Linked DNA regions of Homo sapiens. The protein of the gene in region 4 purifies or fractionates together with the protein of the main gene of each other region. This does not show direct contact. Each region holds a gene or a part of one and is shown on either strand. Other genes may lie near its edges.

Evidence for each region. Proteins that work in one complex are often made in the same cells at the same time.
Region 1: the proteins of NIFK (region 4) and RBM28 purify together in Homo sapiens (affinity purification with mass spectrometry; 4 studies listed by BioGRID and IntAct, with this or other methods). This does not show direct contact.
Region 2: the proteins of NIFK (region 4) and RPF2 purify together in Homo sapiens (affinity purification with mass spectrometry; 4 studies listed by BioGRID and IntAct, with this or other methods). This does not show direct contact.
Region 3: the proteins of NIFK (region 4) and PUM3 purify together in Homo sapiens (affinity purification with mass spectrometry; 4 studies listed by BioGRID and IntAct, with this or other methods). This does not show direct contact.

Annotation. Positions count from the first base shown.
Region 1 is NC_000007.14:128,337,409-128,340,908, forward strand, and holds part of RBM28 (RNA-binding protein 28), read right to left. Parts: intron 2,384-3,500; coding exon 2,225-2,383; intron 1,914-2,224; coding exon 1,819-1,913; intron 1,394-1,818; coding exon 1,318-1,393; intron 935-1,317; coding exon 842-934; intron 1-841. UniProt on the Homo sapiens protein: Nucleolar component of the spliceosomal ribonucleoprotein complexes.
Region 2 is NC_000006.12:111,020,038-111,023,537, forward strand, and holds part of RPF2 (ribosome production factor 2 homolog), read left to right. Parts: intron 1-3,500. UniProt on the Homo sapiens protein: Involved in ribosomal large subunit assembly. May regulate the localization of the 5S RNP/5S ribonucleoprotein particle to the nucleolus.
Region 3 is NC_000009.12:2,806,096-2,809,595, forward strand, and holds part of PUM3 (pumilio homolog 3), read right to left. Parts: intron 1,810-3,500; coding exon 1,719-1,809; intron 1-1,718. UniProt on the Homo sapiens protein: Inhibits the poly(ADP-ribosyl)ation activity of PARP1 and the degradation of PARP1 by CASP3 following genotoxic stress. Binds to double-stranded RNA or DNA without sequence specificity. Involved in development of the eye and of primordial germ cells.
Region 4 is NC_000002.12:121,726,876-121,730,375, reverse strand, and holds the end of NIFK (MKI67 FHA domain-interacting nucleolar phosphoprotein), read left to right. Parts: intron 1-1,815; exon of another isoform or gene 1,816-1,839; coding exon 1,840-1,899; exon of another isoform or gene 1,900-2,019; coding exon 2,020-2,088; exon of another isoform or gene 2,089-2,463; coding exon 2,464-2,652; 3' UTR 2,653-3,431; downstream 3,432-3,500.

The DNA of each region.
Region 1 (3,500 bases), on a different chromosome or scaffold from region 4:
CTTTCTACATAGCCACCACACCTGGGATAAGATGGAGTAAAAAAATAAAGAATTAGAACTATGTTTCCAGTTAGACTATCAGGAATCAAAACAGGCATTCTGGAATCATCTGCACCCTACCTGGAAGCTAGGACATCTCTACGGCAATAACTTCTTTTTTTTTTTTTTGAGACACAGTCTCGCTCTGTCGCCCAGGCTGGAGTGCAGTGGTGCCATCTCAGTTCACTGCAACCTCCGCCTCCAGGTTCAAGCGATTCTCCTGCCTCAGCCTCTTGAGTAGCTGGGATTACAAGCATGCACCACCACACCTGGCTAATTTTTGTATTTTCAGTAGAGACGGGGTTTCGCCATGTTGACCAGGCTGGTCTTGAACTCCTGACCTCAGGTGATCCACCTGCCTCCTCGGCCTCCCAAAGTGCTAGGATTACAGGTGTGAGCCACCGCACCTGGCCGGCAATAACTTCTTTAGGCACAGTACTTGATAAGTCAATATATAAATCACAGTCAGTTTAATAAATAGCCCACAGATGCTGAACAGTGATATAACCAAGGAGGAATCTAGATACCAACCTGCATCTATCAGCAATTATCTCAGGGACATTTTTCACTAGGGATTTAAAAGGACACTCTCACCAGATAAAAGAAAGAATACTGGCAAGGGTTCTTTCAAGTTTAACCCCAAGATCAAGTTCTAGAGTATTTCACCTAAATAGCTACCGTATTAGCAATGAGACTCTTAATAATGCAAACATCTTTTGAAAATGCAGAAAGTGGGTTACTACACTAATTCACCAAAACACCAGAAATATCTGGGTCAATGATATGGGTATAGAAAGCTTACCTTTTATCTCTTTCATGTTCATGCCTTTGAGAGCTTTACCTGCTTCTAGGAGGTTTTTGAACTGAACAAAACCAAAACCGCGCATCTTCCCATCTGTGTGCAAATGCACAAAGAAAGAAGTGAGAGGCAGCAGGAGGTAGCCAGAATACTAAGAAGTAAATTACTGCAATTCAGGCCCACAAGATGGCCCAAATTCTGCCAGCAGGTCAGGCCCTTCCCCAAAGCAATTGCTTACATCTTCTTACTGAGTATACTCTGACTTGGACTTGGGGAGAGCAAAACACTTTCTCAAACTAACTCGCCTTCTAAAACTAATTCTGATCCAACAGAAAATATCATCAGGGGAATAAAACCATTATTTGGGTTTTCATTAGATGTGAAGCACTGTGCCAAATACTTCATATATATCATATATGTTTGTTCAAGGGTAATATGTTAACTAACGTAATCCACACCAAGTGAAGGTTTATTAGTACCTGGTTTCCTAGGGATATTTACTTCCAGGACAGCTCCAAATTGAGCAAATACTGTCTTCAAGTCATCTTCTGAACACTGAAGCCAAAAGTGAAGAAAGAAAAAGAGAAACACAATCACAGCAAATTAACATAAAACATCAACTACTAAATTCATTAATTATGAAAAACATGAATGTTTACTTTTTTTTATTTTTGATACTAGGACATCAAATGTTTCTAAATAGAAGACATTTTACTTTGTACCTAAGAGGCAAAAACACAGACGTCTGAGAACTTTTTCTACCTTTTCTTTCTCAGTAGTAGTTTCCCCAAAAAGGAAAGCAGCTTCACACTTAGTGCCCTTATTACACAGGCCCACTTTCTGAATTCAACAGGGGTAAGGTTGATTCCCAGAAGGAATTAAGCCCAATTATACCATCTTGGTGAGGAGTTCTACTAATGATCACATCTTGGCTCTAAAAGCCTTCAAAACATGCAATGTTCATTTTCTCTCTCACTTACCTTAAAGCTCAGGTTCCGAATAATTAATCTGGCTTTCTTATCTGCCACTTTGGCTTTTTTAGCCTTCGGCTCCTTCTTTGGGCACTCTGAGTTTTCTAAAAAATAAGAGGTAATGGAATAAGTACTCGAAAATCACCCACTTCTACGCCAGAACATCACAGAAAAAAAAGCTACTGGCGACAGATGGCATTTACCACAGGGTTAAGTGTGGCAATAATACCAAGGAATACCAGATTTTTCCAAAGAACTAAAATGAGTATCACAATACACTGGATGATTTTGGAGATCAAAAAGAAATGCAAAAAGCTTTAAGTTCTAGAAGCTACCTCCATGCCTCCCTCTTTCATTTTCATAGTGCTCCTCCTCACCCTGGGAGAAAAACTTCCTTCAATTACTAGAAACTCACCATTTTTCCCCTTTTCCTTTGTCTTGTTCCTCAGTTTTTTCTTGGCAACAGTCACGTTGATCTTGCAACCTTCAAAGGTGGTAATCTCCTTGAGGGCCCTCTGAACATCTTCCAGCATTGAAAAAGTGACATAGCCAAAGCCTCGACATGCCTTACTCCCTGGAATAATGGAGTGGGGAGGGAGTGGAGGGGCAGTGTGAAAAGGAGAGAGAATCATAAGCCAAGAGCACTAAATGAGTAAATCCTCAAAGCCTAAGCTAGAGGATATACTGCCAACCCATCTTGCTATCAGTTTGCCAAAAGTCTCAGGAGGGCGAGAAACAAGGGTGGTATCAGTGGTTCCCTCCCCACTTTGCTTAGAAACTGTTAGCCTTCCTCCTCTTTTAATTTAGTGTCTTTGCTGTTAGCTCCCCTTCTTCCCCCTTTCTTGATAATCCCAAGAAAACAGAGAATCCATGACATATGAGGCCCTCAAAGAACTCAACATCAAAAAGAACAAAACATCACCAAAGAAGGCAGGAAAGGTAAGTATATGCTATGGTTTGAATGTGTCCCCCAAATTTCATGTGTTGGAAACTTAATCCCCAATGTAGCAGTATTGAAAGGTGGAGTCTTTAAGAGGTGACTGGATCAGAGGACTCTGTCTTCAGGAATGGATTAATCAATTTATGGATTAATGGGTTAATAGATTAATGGGCTATCATGAGAGTGGAGCTGGGGGCTTTATAAGAAGAGGAAGAGAGACCTGAGCAAGCACATTAGCATGCTCAGCCCCCTCGCCATGACACCCTGCACTGTCTGGGCATTTTGCAGAGTCCCCACCAACAAGAAGGCTCTCACCAGATACAGCCACTAAACTTTGGACTTCTCAGCCTCCAGAACTTAAGAAATAAATTTTTCTTTACAAAGTACCTAGTTTCAGGTATTCTCTTATAAGCAACAGAAAATGAATTAAGACAGTATGGTAGCTTCAAAAATCAGAACACAATAATGCAGTTACTCCTCAAAATAGATCAGCAATAAATGCCTGAGGCCCAGACAAAAGAACCTCAAACAATAAATACTGCTCAGAGAGACTGCAGATGTTATGACCACTATTACCAACGCCTTAGCTGTCGATATCAAATTAAACCTTTCCAAAGCAGCTGTGCATTCTTGTCTCATTTTATCTTTAGAACACCTCAAAATAGGTAAAGCAAATATTATCACCCCTTCTTTCCAAGTAAGTAATTTGAGATGGAAGACAGTAAGTGAATTGGTTAATGTCACACAGGGT
Region 2 (3,500 bases), on a different chromosome or scaffold from region 4:
CCAAGTAGCTGGAACTACTGGCACCCGCCACCACGCCCGGCTAATTTTATTTTTGTATTTTTAGTAGAGACAGGGTTTCACCATGTTAGTCAGGATGGTCTCAATCTCCTGACCTCGTGATCTACCTGCCTTGGCCTCTCAAAGTGCTGAGATTACAGGCATGAGCCACCGCGCCTGACCTGGAACACTTCTTTTTTTGAGGCAGGATCTTGCTGTTGCCCAGGCTGGAGTACAGTGGCATCATCTCAGCTCACTGCAACCTCTGCCTCCCGCATTCAAGCGATTCTCCTGCCTCGGGTGGGTATGTATGCCCTCTGTGTTAAACATAGAGGGGATACAAGGGAGATAAAAATATAACGGTAAAAAATCATTGACAGTAAGAAATGAGTGGTAACAGTAGCCTAAAACTCTTCTGTGTTGAACGGTTTCGCAGAAAGTATTCACTTGTATTTAGTGAAAAGGGTTTATTTGTAAAGAAAGATACAGAGAAAATAAAACAAAATAGAGAATTATCAAGTCAGACTTTAGAGCAAGAATAAACTGGCCCAGCGTGGTGGCTCATGCCTGTAATCCAGTACTTTGGGAGGCCAAGATGGGTGGATCACCTGAGGTCAGGAGTTTGAGACCAGCCTGGCCAACATGGTGAAACCCCGTCTCTACTAAAAATATAAAAATTAGCCGGGCAACATGGTGTGCACCTGTAATCCCAGCTACTCAGGAGGCTGATGCAGGAGAACCCGGGAGGCAGAGGTTGCAGTGAGCCAAGATCGCACCACTGCACTCCAGCCTGGGTGACAGCGAGACTCCATTTCAAAAAAAGAGAAAAAAAAGAATAAACTAGCAGTAAGGCCGGGCACGGTGGCTCATCCCTGTAATCCCAGCAGCCCTTTGGGAGACTGAGGTGGGCAGATCACGAGGTCAGGAGATCGAGACCATCCTGGCTAACACGGTGAAACATCATCTATACTAAAAATACAAAAAATTAGCTGGACATGGTGGCGCATGCCTGTAATCCCAGCTATTCAGGGGGCCAAGGCAGGAGAATTGCTTGAACCACGGAGTCGGAGATTGCAGCGAGCCTAGATTGTGCCACAGCACTCCGGCCTGGTGACAGAGCAAGACTCTGTCTCAAAAAAATAAAAATAAAAACAAAAATAAAAAACTAGCAGTGTAACTATAATACATAGATCCACCAAAAATCTGATTGCTAGAATCACCTTTACACTAGCACGACATCTTTCATAATGAAAAAAAGTTTGAAATTTTAAAATCAGAGACCCTAGTATGTAATTTTGATCACTAGATGTTCCATATGTGCCTTGTAATACTTGTTAGCTATTAATTTGAAATAAAAAATGGACACTGTGATTGAGAGTGAGCTGCTACTTGAAAGAATCACTAAACATGTGGATCAGCTTAGCTTCCAGAGGCTGTGCCACACTTGGGGAGCATTGAGGATGGGAGGAAGGGGTGGTCCAGGGATTCAGCATCACCTCTGAGCCTACTGACCTGGCTCTGAGCTGGGCTCAGCCACGTGACATGGGCAGGTCACCACTTCTCAGGGTCTTTGTTTCTTCCTCTGTAAACTATAGCAATACCATTTAGATAATTCTGAGGTCCCCCTAAGATTGACAGTACTGCTTTATAAGAGTAAAGGGGTACTCATAGATGGGCATATACCAGAAAGTATGTCTGACTTAACTTGGCTCCCCAGGCATTCTTTGGGCTAGCTATACTGTGGAACCCTTTCCCTCGCTCTTACTGCAAATTAGCCCTTATGCAATTTGAAAATGGTAATATTTAATATTCACACACTTTATTTGTGAAGATAAATGAGGTTTATAAAATGGTTTTGAGCTTTTTGGATGAAAGGAACTCTAAACAGGAAATTATATTAATATAACCTTTAACATGATCTTTTGGGTGAATAAATCATAGTGTTATTGACCACTGTTCCTATACATCCTATAGTAATTATTCCTTGTATGTGAGTGACTATTTATATCCGTTGGGAAATTTTATTCACTATGGAGTCAGAGCCATTAATATGAAACAAAATCGTTAGTAATGCCACATGTGCCTTTGCACAATGGTTAGGCCTTATGGGGGGAAATATGCAAAACAAAGTGGTAGCATACTTTGAAAAGCAAACATAACATTCTAATTGAGGAGTTTACTTAATGAAAACAGACTTTCAGCCAGAGAAGTGTATGAGAGGGAGAAAAATGAGGAAATTACAATTTGAACAGTAGTGGTAATGTCACTCTTCCTCAAGAAATAGACAAATAATATTTAAAAATATGTAGAAATTACCAGTTAGCATATCTACCAGCTTGAGCCCATCTGAGAGAGAAAGAACTGGGTTCTGTTTGCAGATAACTAAAAGCTAGAGAATATTTCCTTAAATCAGTTTGATCTTCCAGTAAACATACTCACTGAAATGATTAAGATCAGATCATCTACACAGAAAAGTATGACATTGTACTTAATTCTTTAATGAAATAACAACATAGGTAATTATACATAGTTATTTGGAAATCTTAATTTTATGTACCACTCAAAAAATTCATTAGGACGCTTGTGAATAAAAAGGCACAATATTAAATTATTATATGCACCCTGAAACTATGTACATCTATTATGCATCAATTTTAAAAATTATTTTTAGTTAATTAAAAGGTGCTTCAGTTAATTAAAAGGTGCTTTTGGCAGTGTATAGTAGTACTTGGGTGATTTGAATCTATCGGATATGCCATGAGCTGTTTTGAATTGACAAGTTTTCTAACTAGCTGAAAATTAGCAGTTTTAAGTGGAAGAAAAAATTTTAGTTGAAAATTAAAATACATGTCCCTGATTTCTTTTTTTGTTTGTTTGTTTTTGAGACGGAGTCTCGCCCTGTCGCCCAGACTGGAGTGCAGTGGCGCGATCTCGGCTCACTGCAACCTCCGCCTCCTGGGTTTAAGCGATTCTCCTGCCTCAGCCTCCCGAGTAGCTGGGACTACAGGCATGTGCCACCACGCCTGGCTAATTTTTTGTGTCTTTAGTAGAGATGAGGTTTCACCATGTTGGCCAGCTGGTCTGGAGCTCCTGACCTCAGGTGATCTGCCTGCCTTAGCCTCCCAAAGTGCTGGGACTACAGGCGTGAGCCACCACGCCTGGCTGCTCCACCATCACTTTATCCTGCCTGTATTCCCCAGTTCTCCTCCACCAGTGTTTCCAGATCCAGAGCTGTTTAGACATAGGGTATTCAGAAAGTTGTGGTTTTGTTATTTTAAGATTTTAAAGTTCACTTCAATGTAAGGAAGTTAGTAAATGTCTGTGCTATGAGGAAAAGTTGATTCTGAATGGGTTGGTTTAACTCCTACAGTCTTAGATAAGAACTTGTTAATCGTATAAACATACTGTTTCAAAGAAAAAGCCAATTATAATTACTTTTATACATACATAAATCTATGAGTAAGATGAAGAAGTCAAATCAAAGGATTTTATTTCATTTCTGA
Region 3 (3,500 bases), on a different chromosome or scaffold from region 4:
TTCCTATGTTTGAAATCCACCTAATGGGAGTTCTGATTGATGAACAACCTTTATAAATTAATTTCATGGCATTGCTGAAATTTCCAGTTAATTGAGTGTAATGAAAGAATGTGTCAGTAGGTGTTAACACTCCAAATGCCTGGTAAAAAAATTTGTAATGAAAAAGTTCATGTATCAGCTAACGAATTCTGACTGTTTAACATCAACTGGAAAATTAACTAATTTTAAGCAGAAATGAACAAAATGATCTGTAACACTTATATATTTGGAGACACTGACATACCTGAAGCTATGAATGCTCCTGTGTGAGTATTATGTGTACCAGATCACGTATATGTTGAAGAAACACTTAAAATAACATTTACAAACAACATAGATTAAGTTGCATAGCATGTTGCAAGTAAAGTATCTTGAGAAATTCAAACTAGGGTTGGTATCTGTTTTCCCAAACCTTAATAACACAGCAGGGGAAAAATCAACAGTAATTGCTTCAAAGCAACATACAAATCTTTTTTTAAATGAATGCTCTTAACAGAAGGTTTTCATCTGCACAGAGAATGTATGGAAAATTTCAATGATTTGTGGATTGATTATAAACTCAACTAAGTTCAGAGAATAATACAAAAGAGGCCATAGCTCATCACTGTTTTTTTCTCATTTTAAGTCAGATATCAACAAATAGCACACACACTTCAGTAGCAAATGCTCTTCCAATCCTTTTACAATCTTTTAAAACAATGAAGGAAATTACATGTAGAATTAGGCATGATTTAAAAGTCAACATTGTCACAGTTTTCACAGGGATGTAAGTTATTCATTAAAAAAAATACAGGCTGGGCACAGTGGCTCATGCCTGTAATCCCAGCACTTTGGGAGCCCGAGGTGGGCAGATCACGAGGTCAGGAGATCGAGACCATCCTGGCTAACACGGTGAAACCAGGTCTCTACTAAAAATAAAAAAAATTAGCTGGGCGTGGTGGCGGGCACCTGCCGTTCCAGCTACTCAGGAGGCTGAGGCAGGAGAATGGCATGAACCCAGGAGGCAGAGCTTGCAGTGAGCTGAGATCGCACCACTGCACTCCAGCCTGGGCGACAGTGTGAGACTCCATCTCAAAAAAAAAAAATTATGTTTTGGTCAAAACCATAAATGTGGTGAAGCCACCTGATACCTTGTGAATGTTATAATTTGTCAAAAAGATGGTAGTTTAAAAATCCTAAGGGCCAAGCACAATGGCTATGCCTGTAATCCCAGCACTTTCGGAGGTCAAGATGGGAGGACTACTTGAGCCTAAGAGTCTGAGATCAGCCTGGCCAACACAGGGAGACCCCCATCTCTACAAAAAATAAAAAAATAAAAATTAGTTGGGTGTGGTGGCATGCGTCTGTAGTCTCAGCTACACAGGAGGCTGAGATGGGAGGAAAACTTGAGCCCAGGAGGTTGAGGCTGCAGTGAGCTGAGATCGTGACACTGCACTCCAGCCTGGGTGACAGTGAGACTCCATCTCAAAAAAAAAAAAAAAAAAAAAAAAGATTCCTAAGGACTGACTGAAAGAGTTACATTTGCTTTCTAATATTTGGTATGTTTGTCTAGACCATGAGTGACTGGGAGTAATATTAGACTACTGAGAACAAATATTAGAACTGAGAAATCAACGTGAAGGAAGTGTGTCTTTTGCATGACCAGGCCCTGCTCAGAGAAGGGCACATGTTATACATACCTAGAAAGAATAATGGCACCTCGATTTACACTAGCCCAGGACTTCAGGTTCTTCATACCAACATGCTCTACAAGTGTTTTTGCAAAACAACCTGTAAAATATACTGAAGCTTAGTGAACATCACATAATAAGATATATACTCCCTACCCCCTTCTCTACTGCCCTTAAATCTGCAAATATTTTTAAACAAAAAAGCTAACAAAAGTAGCTTTCACCCAATCTCCCTTTTAACACAAAAAATTCCAGTGCAGGTTTATCTAATGCATTTCTAAAAGAGCCATTTCTTTTAACTCTGATCCAAAACCTAAGCTATGTTTAGCAGTAATTACTCAAGATAAACTATGAATTCTAATAAAACACTCACTTGGTTATGTCTGCACTTCTTTGTATTATTTAATGATTTAACTTTGACCTGAAAGCTATTCAGGAAATAAATGTTTCACAGTAGCACCTCATGCTTGGTTGAAATCAAGTTCTTCCTCATGGAGAAATGCTCACTCACAAGGTGCCATGAACATAACACAGTGTTCACGTGTTCAACAGTGGTTGATAAATGACTGTTCTAGCTTAAACTTGGCATTTCTCTTTACAACGCTTACATACTCACAAATCAAAAATACCATTTTTCTCCCGTTATTCTAGTATTTGATTCCCAAGGTCGTGGTATTATCTTTTTCACTTTGCAATTAATGCTTGGACAAAGGAGAAATTCTGATAGCTAAGATTTAGTGCAGATGGAGGTAGGGACAACCTATCTTGAAGGCAAACATCATAGTCAGGTAGCATGTACTATATAATTCATTCAAAGATACCTGAATGTAAGGACTCTTTAAAAGCCAAGAGGCCTATGGCTATTCAGCCTTTCATGGTACCTGCTAAAGAGGGACAGAGTTCAGCTAGTGAGGCAAATTGTTTTCCAAAGCTGACCACAATAATATCTCCTGTCCTGTGTGCTCTTCTAGAATGCAGCCACTCCCCCATCTATAGGGGGAATCCATGTCTTCTTTTGAATCACAGTGGGCCTCTGTGATTGACTTGACCAAGACAGTATGATGAAAGTGGCATTAAATGACTGCTAAGGATAAATCATGGAAGTGCCACGCATTTACTTTGTCCTCTTGGGATGCTCACTCTTAAAAAAGCAACCACCATCTCGTGAAGGAGCCCAAGCAGCCTAGAAAGGGAAACTGAGGCTGTTGGTCCCCAGCCAACAGTCAGTACTCACTTGCCAGCCATGTGAGTGAGCTAAGCGAAAAGTGGACACTCCAACCACAAACCGAGCAGCCCTAGATGACTCTGACTCTGAGCATAGAGGGGCAGGCTCCACCAGACCCTGATCAAGTCATTGTTTTGAAAACTACTAAGTTTTAAGGTGGCTACTATCCAGTAAAAGAGAATCAAAACAGCTAGACGTGCAGGAGGACAAACTCATTTGGTGCTGAATACGACAAGACAAACACATCAGACCCAAACTGGCAGATTTTAGGGTTCTCAGCACATTTTAATTAAGAGGGAGAAAAACCACTGGACATTAAGCCAGACTACTTTTCTGGCATAAACTCAACTATACATCAACTTTTTAATAATGAAAAAGATTATTCCATATGTTATTTTTTTCTTTAATATTTATCACAAGGCTTCTCTTTTACAAAAAAATTTAGTGAAAAATAGCCCCAGGTCCCCATTCTTAAAGGTAAGGTGAGAAGTGACAGCTCTACTGCTATACTGATTGCCACACTAGCCATCAGAGCTGCCACTTGCCGCAAGACATGAATTCATGAT
Region 4 (3,500 bases):
TTTTTAGTAGAGACGGGGTTTCTCCTTGTTGGTCAGGCTGGTCTTGAACTCCTGACCTCAGGTGATCCGCCCGCCTCGGCCTCCCAAAGTGCTAGGATTACAGGCGTGAGCCACTGCACCCATCCTTTTTTGTTTTGTTTTGTTTTGTTTTGTTTTTTGAGACAGAGTCTTGCTGTGTTGCCCAGGCAGGCTGGAGTGCAGTGGCACAATCTCAGTTCATTGCAACCTCCACCTCCCAGGTTCAAGCAATTCTCCTGCCTCACCCTCATGAGTAGCTGAGATTACAGGTGCGTGCCACCATACCCGGCTAATTTTTTGTATTTTTAGTAGAAATGGGGTTTCACCATGTTGGTCAGTCTGGTCTCGAACTCTTGACCTCAGGTGATCCATCCACCTCAGCCTCCAAAAGTGCTGGGATTACAGGTGTGAGCCACCATGACTGGCCTGACTAAACTTTTGAAACATTCCATTGTAGGTTCTTCCTAAAACATTATGAGACCAGATTCTGTTATTTCTATTATACAGAAGAGGAAGCTTCTTTTAAGGAGATAATCTGATTTGTTTAACTTACATGTTCTGTTTTAAGTTACTGAAGTAAACCCACTATTTAACTAAAGACTGTAATACTCTTAGATTGCCATTTATTAGCCAGTTGAGGTAGTGTGTGCCTGTAGTCCTTGCTACTCAGGAGGCTGAGGCAACAGGATCTCCTGAGCCTAGGATTTCAAGTTTGCAGTGAACTGTGATTGTACCATTGCACTCCAGCCTCAGCAACAGAGCAAGACCGTATCGCTAAAAAAGAAAAAGATTGTCATTCAGAGGTGACACTGCCAGAATTAAGTCTTTGGTTTACTGTATGCTATAAGTAGATACCAAAACACTGACCCTTTCCTCCATCTGTCACAGTGAGGAGAGCTATGTCTTTTATTATAGATCAAGAATGAAGCTTATTATGGTATGGCTAGTATAGGTAAAGGTCTCATTCTTTTCTTTTTTTTTTTTTTTTTTGAGATGGAGTCTCCCTCTGTTGCCCAGGCTGGAGTGCAGTGGCACTATCTCAGCTCACTGCAACCTCCGCCTCCCAGGTTCAAGCGATTCTCCTGCCTCAGCCCCCACGAGTAGCTGGGACTACAGGCACACACCACCACACCCAGCTAATTTTTTGTATTTTTTTTAGTAGAGATAGGGTTTCATCACCATGTTAGCCAGGCTGGTCTCGAACTCCTGACCTCATGATCCACCCACCTTGGCCTCCCCAAGTGCTGGGATTGTAGGCGTGAGCCACTGCGCCCAGCCAATTTACTAGGTTTTTAACCTTATCCAGAAACTAGATGACCGTGTTACCCTCCTTTGCCTCAATTCTCGGTGGTTAATTTTTTGCCCAAATCCCAAATACTGTCTTTAATAGTATTAGAATATTTCGCCAAGGCCTTAGGCCCTGGTACTCTTGTGAACCATTTGGGAACTGAGACAGTGAAACTTGAAAAGAGGCATGTGAGCACTGCTTTTCCTGTACCCTGTTTGTGACTTAGGAGATGGGGGTGGCCTGCCTTTGCACATTCTTCCTGCTTCCACCCTCCTGAATTCAGGATTCTGTGAATCAGTGAGCTCCAGGTTTTGGCCTTCCCTTCAACCTCTGCAGCTCTGTCAATTCCTCTACTGGGTTTTTCCTAGTTTTGCCCTTTACTTGAGATAATTCACTGTATTTATGAGTTTTGATTTTTTAAAATGAAATGCTCTTGTCATTTAGGGAGGATTTACTGATAATATATATGAGGATCTAATGCTAAGTTTAGAAAGAAAAGATATGAGTGTCAATTTCTAACTTCTTTATTAAAGATTTTACAGAAAACGGAAAGTATTTCAAAAACTAATCGTCAGACGTCTACAAAAGGCCAGGTAAAATTTTTTTTATCATTTTACATGCAAGATATTAGAGAAGGATAAGTAGGAAAACATATTCAAGACTACTGTAGCTGATCAATATTCAAATTGATGTGTTTTAAAATTTATTTTAAGGTTTTACGTAAGAAGAAGAAAAAAGTTTCAGGTACTCTTGACACTCCTGAGAAGACTGTGGATAGCCAGGTAAAATGGTTTTCAATACTCCAGACACCAGATATTATAGAAATAATTTGAAGGAGGAGAAGCAGTTTCTGCTACTCTCATTTTAAGATTTCAAATTAAATATTGTGACATTTGGTAGATCTTTATTGTTGATTTAGCAATTTTCTGCCTAAAACCTTATAATGGAACATGCTATATTTGTTAATTGTGAATTTCTGTACCAAGTTTGATAAGCATCTAAGTTCTTTATTCTTTGCAATAGTATCACCAAAAGATGGTAACAGAGCTAAAATAATGGGGCACAACTTGTAAAAATAGAGGAGAGATGATATTTTTGGGTAAAGTCATAATCATGTTTTACATTTATGTATTATAATCTTTACTTGTTGAATCCAGGGCCCCACACCAGTTTGTACACCAACATTTTTGGAGAGGCGAAAATCTCAAGTGGCTGAACTGAATGATGATGATAAAGATGATGAAATAGTTTTCAAACAGCCCATATCCTGTGTAAAAGAAGAAATACAAGAGACTCAAACACCTACACATTCACGGAAAAAAAGACGAAGAAGCAGCAATCAGTGATTTTCAATGTATTATATTTCTTTTGAAAAATATAATATTTTTATGAGAGTGGACTTTGTATTTCACTAGGTACAATGGAATACAACCTTTGACAAGATTTTCAGAGGAAAAATACACTGTTTGGTCAAGTTAAGGAAAGCAGTGTGTAATTTTGGATTGCCTGCCCTTGGCTGAAATACAGGGGTGCATACCATCTTGCAGTGGCTTGGCTGACATTGCCTCTTTGTCCTGGCCTCTAGTTTTCTTTTGATATTTCATAGCTCTCCTTAGTTTACTCTGCCTGGATAGAAAGTTGACCACTAACTGCAGGTTTAAGTACTAAACTGCAGCCTTTTCTGTCGCCAGCAATTAAAGACCACCAATCTTGTTTGTCCATCTACATGGTTTGTCGGGGACATTTAACTCATGGAGGTGCTTTAGATTTCAACATCAGATGGTTGAAGCTGGAAGTTTAATTATATGTAGAGTGAGAAGGCAGTTCCAGTTTTAGCACAGATTTGTTTATGTGTTCAGATTTTAATAGAGATTCAAAAATGACTCATTTTTACCAATAATGTTAAATTAGTTTTGGTTGTGCTAGCATGAATTAATAACCACCATTTTATACCAGTATCATCAGTGAAGAATTGTATTTCAAGATTCAAACAATAACCAGCAATTAAACTTTTTTCTACAATGTATTTGTTTGCGAGTAGGACTTGGGAGTCATTGGGAAAAAAAAATAATAAATTTTCCCCTTCATTAACGAATTCAGACTCATTAAAAACATTGCCATCAGATGTAGTAGCTTGTGCCTGTAATCCCAGCACTTTGGGAGGCTGAGGCAGGAGGATCACTTAAGGCTAGGA